Regions from separate parts of the Homo sapiens genome. Here region 1 is linked to region 2. The links come from fine-mapping of genetic effects on gene expression. Tissue or cell type: skeletal muscle. Region 2 holds a variant in brackets; the other region holds the start of a gene. All regions are shown on one strand. Distances are from middle to middle.

The links. PIP is the estimated chance that this variant, and not a neighbour inherited with it, causes the effect.
Region 1: SLC9A8 starts here. The variant in region 2 is fine-mapped to the expression of SLC9A8 in skeletal muscle (FUSION, PIP 0.95).

Annotation. Positions count from the first base shown.
Region 1 is chr20:49,811,876-49,814,375 of GRCh38, forward strand. SLC9A8 (solute carrier family 9 member A8) reads left to right here and starts at 953. Exons shown (of 16, transcript NM_015266.3): 1 at 953-1,073. The coding sequence starts at 1,048. RefSeq lists an enhancer at 632-771 and a silencer at 922-1,201.
Region 2 is chr20:50,711,077-50,713,831 of GRCh38, forward strand. No RefSeq gene overlaps it. Among named protein-coding and RNA genes, the nearest start is that of PARD6B, 19 kb to the right of the region's middle. RefSeq lists a cis regulatory region at 120-308. The variant C/T (reference allele first, on the strand shown) is at 1,167.

The sequences.
Region 1 (2,500 bases), 900 kb before region 2:
GGGACAATAGTGGAAAGTCAAAGTGTGTGGGAGGGGAGATATAGAGCCCCATGCCCCCCTCCCACACACTTCAGAGGGGAAAAGGGGGCAGGATTGAGTCCTGTACATTCCCCACGTTTTTTTTTTCTCTGGAGATTGGAAGCCATTGGAGGGTCTAAGCAGAGGAGTGATGAGTTAAGCTGCTGTGTGGAAGTCCGTAAGGAACAGGGGTGAGTCAGAGACCCTGAATGGAGCCGTTGCAATTATCCAGATGAGATAGAGTGCCTTGGATCAGGAAGGGAGGTAGCAACAGAAGCGGCCAATAAAGTTCAAAGTCCTCAGCCCCAGTCCTCCCGATGGGGGTCTCACCTACCCCTCTCACCTCACCTTGTTCCTCCCTGCATCCCCACCCCACCGGTCACTGCTAGGCACATAGAAGCATCTACTAAGCATGTGGTGAATCAATGAACCCCTTAATGAATGGTCCACCCCTAGATCATCAGCATCCTTTTTAACGCTAGGCATATAGTCTGAACTCAACACATGTTTACAGATGGAATGCTGCACAGTCCTGCCAAGTCCAGGCGGTTATTCCTCTCCACAGCCGAAGGAAACTAAGGCTCGGGTGGGGAAGTGTCCCCCTGGGGTCTCTCCGCTTAGGCTGCAGGCTGGGCATCCTTTTTCAAACTCTTTTAGCACAGCGAAGTCGAGGGCACTGGGTGGAGGGTGCTTGCTTGCCCTCAGGGTGAGTCACAGTGACCTCAGAGGAGTTTCCCCAAAACGTCCCCGCCCTGTGATGGGGAAAAGCCGGAATCTCTCGGTCCCAGGTGGTCATGTGGCCCAGGCCGGACAAGCGTCCCGAAAGCCCCGGGAGAGACTAAGAAGCAATCCTCCCACGCGCTTTCTCCCACCCTCGGGCCACTGAGACGGAGGGACAGAGGGCCGCCCTCGCGCGGCCGAGGCCCCGCCTCCCGCTCGCCCGCCCGCGCCTCCAGCGGAAGCCGGAAGCAAAAGCGGGTCCTGCTAGCCCCGCGGCTCCGAACTCGGTGGTCCTGGAAGCTCCGCAGGATGGGGGAGAAGATGGCGGAAGAGGAGTGAGTGGGCTTTTTCCCGGGCGGCGGAGGCGGCGGGGCTGGGCCCCGGCGGGTGACAGCGAGCGCCTCAGGCCGCCCTCCGGCCCCGGAAGGCGGAGCTTCTTTTGCTGGTTGGCCAGGACTGACCAAGCCGGTGCCTACGAGGAGGGCGGGATGGGCGGGCCTGGGCCCAGGTGGGCCTTGCTTTCCCCTGGAGATCGGTCCCTCGAGCTGGGAATCTACTGCCCAGCGCAGGCCCGGAGAGCTGTCTTGCGGAAAATACAAACCATATTTACTTTCCCAGTTTTCGGTAATCTCATGGTTACTGAGCCCTCTTCCGCCTCCTCCAGGAAGTCGTCCGGGTTCTCCACACCCACCTCCTACGTAGCCAGTCGCCTCCTGTATAACGATCAGTTTTCATGTCTTTCTCCTTCACTAAGTTTCATTTAGTCATTAACTGTTAGCCATCTACTCAATTCCAGGCCCTGGGCAGGTGGTAGGAAAGGAGGCCGACCAGGAGCCGCTCTCTGGGAGCTTCCATTCTAGTGGGAAAAGAAGACCATAATTAGTCAAGGTGGTTTCAGATCGTGATTAATTAACGTTATTTGTGCCTAGTGTTCCATTATTGGAACGCTAAGCATGTGGGAGTTATTTATATCCTACTGCTCAAGGTCATCGCCAAGGTCTGATTTTTCTCACGTCTGCAGTTCTAAAAATTGCAACCTCTGGCATGAATGGGTTAAGTGTTCTGAAGGAAGCAAAATAGAGTTAAGGTTGGGGAGTCCACTCAGGAAAAAGTGACATTCAGCAGAAACTTGAATGACCAGAATGAGGGATAGGAGAAATAACATCAGGTTCAAAAGGCCTGGCTCAAGAAAGAGTTTAGTGCTTTTGAGTGACAGGCAGCATGGCTGGTGTGTAGAGAGGAAGGGGGTTAGCTGGACAAGGGGAGATGGGGAAGGACGGGCTGTGTCCTCCAGGTACTTTTGGGCAAGTCCAAAAGTCATCTCCATACCTGCAGGGCAGAGTCTGTTGCAGATTGTAGATGCCCTATCACTGTTTGTGGAATGAGTATGTGAAGATGAATAAGGAACCCCTTCATTGATACTGGAGTCCTTCACCTGATAACTTTTCAAATATATTTCTTGGCCATGTGGGGGTCATTTCATGTAATCAGTTATTTATTGAGCAGCTGCTCCATCCCAGACACTAAACAGCCTCAGCAGCACAAAATAAAAGAGGCAATATAGCCCAGCGATTTCAAGTTTGGGTTTTCAGCTTGATTCTGCCACTAACTGAGATGTTGGTGAAGTTTTGCAACCTCCCTGAGCCTTAGTTATGCATGAGTAAAAAACGGAAAGTAATCATACCCAATCAGACATGTTATACCTATTAAATGAGAGGTAGTGTGTTACCTAGTTCCTGGAATAAAGCAGTGCTCAGAAAAT
Region 2 (2,755 bases):
GTGTATGTCTTTCACAGAGGGCTTCGGGGAACTTAGGTTCTAGCGGGGAAGACAGACAAAGCAAGTAAATATGTCCAGAATCTGTCCTGAAGCAGAGAGCTGGGGGCTTGAGGGAGTGGCAGAGGCAACTTCGAAGGACCTGAAGGAGGGAAAGGGTGTGGGAGCTAGATTGCATAAAGGAGGAAAGATCACAGGAGATGGAAGGCTATTGTAAATTTAGCATTGACTCTGAATGCGATAAGAAGCTTTCAAAAAGCTTTGACCGGATGAGGGACACCATCAGACAGGTTTTACCAGAATCCTTTCTGGCTTGTGCAGAATCAACTGGAGAGGGGAGGGTAGATGTGGAGAGACCAGAGAAGAGTCTACTATAATAGTCCAAGCGTGAGATGGTGGTGGCTTGGAACAGGGTAGAAGATGTGGACGTGGTGAGAAATAGTTGGATTCTCGGTATATTTTGGAGGTCAAGCCAACAGGACTGGATGTTGAGGGTTGAGAGAAGTGAAGGAGTCAGGGATAATTCCTTTATTATTTTTATGATTTATTTATTTACTTATTTTTATTTATTTTATTTTATTTATTTATTTATTTTTGAGACGGAGTTTCGCTCTTATTGCCCAGGCTGGAGTGCAATGGCATGACCTCGGCTCACTGCAACCTCTGCCTCCCGGGTTCAAGCGATTATCCTGCCTGGGTAGCTGGGATTACAGGCACCTGCCACCATGCCCGGCTAATTTTTTATATTTTCAGTAGAGACGGGGTTTCACCATGTTGGCCAGGCCGGTTTCAAACTCCTGACCTCAAGTGATCTGCCTGCCTCGGCCTCCCAAAGTGCTAGGATTACAGGCATGAGCCGCCACACCAGGCCTGATTGATTGATTGATTGATTTTGAGACAGGGCCTCCATATGCTACCCAGGCTGGTCTCGAACTCTTGAGCTCAAGTGATCCTCCTTCCAAAGTGTTGGGATTATGGGGTGTGAGCCACCACACCCAGCCTGGGGATAATTCTAATGGTAGTCATCTGCAAGATACAACTGCAAAGATGGAGCTGTGATCTGCTTCTTGATGAAGAGGGAGGTGGGGAGTTCAGTGTGGACCATGTTAAGTGTGAGATGCCTACTAGACAGAAATAATGGAAGGGCCGAGTAGGCAACTATATATGCA[C/T]GAATGGAGTTCAGGGGAGAGGCTGGGGACAGAAATATCAGTGTGAAGGCCACCAGCACACAGGTGGTATTGAAAGCCATGACCTGGATGAGATCACCTGGAAAAGAAGTCAAAGAAGAGAAGAGGTGCTTGGACAAGGAGGTCCTCAGCATTCAGAAGTGGGGGCCAATCACAGCTTCACTCCTTGGCTGGGCACTATGGCTCACGCTTGTAATCCCAGCACTTTGGGAGGCTGATGTGGGAGGATCGTTTGAATCCAAGAGTTGAAGACCAGCATGGGCAACATAGCAAGATAGTATCTCTACAAAAAAAATTTAAAAATTAGCCAGGCATGGTGGCATGTGCCTATAGTCCAAACTACCTTGCAAGTTGAGGTGGGAGGATCGTTTAAGCCTGGGAAGTTGAGGTTGCAGTAAGCCATGATCATGCCATTGCACTCCAGCCAGGGCAACTAGTGAGACCCGGTCTCTAAAAAAAAAACAAAACTTCACTCCACAGATGGGGGATCTGAACGTGATCAATTTAGTCACCAATCTCTGGACCTCCTTTGGTGTGCTGAGAGTGGAGGAGAGCGGAAAGAGAACTGGATTTACGTCCAAAAGACCTGCCCTCTGTCATTTACTGTGGGACCCTAAGCACAGCATTTCACCTCTTGGGAAATGCTGTGGAAACCAAAGGTGGGGGGTTGGGGCCAGAGCCTGGAGACCTTGGAAAGAACTGAGTACTATGCTAAGGGAGGGGGAAGGGAGGGGGCAGGGCAGGTTGCTGCCCCTGTAGCCCTCAGCAGAGGCCTCCTGTAACTCCTCTGGATGTGGCTTTTAGTTCTGGCAGGAGGTGATGAGTGTCTGACCTGGGGATGCTGTTACATGCTAACAGGGGAAGACCAGCATGTTAGAGGTTGTTTTTTTGTTTTGCTTTGTTTTGTTGTTTTGAGACATGGTCTCACTCTATCGCCCAGGCTAGAGTGCAGTGGCATGATCATAGCTCATTGCAGCCTCCACCCCCTGGGCTCAAGAGATCCTCCTGCCTCAGCCTCCCAAGTAGCTGGGACTGCAGGCATCCACCACCATGCTGGTTAATTTTTGTATTTTTTGTAGAGACAGGGTTTCGCCATGTTGCCCAGGCTGGTCTCAAACTATCCGCCTGCCTCAGCCTCTCAAAGTGCCAGGATTACAGGCATGAGCCACTGCGCCTGCCTGTGTTAGAGGTTTAGAATCAGGCAGCCACTTGAATATGGACAGTGACGGAGAAAGAGGGTTCAAAATAAAGTTAGAGTCCTGGATGACTGGAGAGATAGTGGTGCTGTTATCAGAGATGGATTACATGGGAGATAGAGCAGTGGAAGACAAATGATAATACTTAGGACACAAAGAGTTCAGAGAGGGATTAAAGTGTAGGGAGTGTCCATGGAATTTTGGTACATGGCCACTTCTTGTCCTTAAATAGCCTCCAAACCCACAGAAACATTATCTTTCCATATCACCCTAAAGACTGTGCAGCAGTGATGAGTAAAATGACTCTGACCTCAATTAAATCAAAATTCTAGGAATACACCAGCTCCTTTGGAGTTTCTTACTAACGCTCCTTTC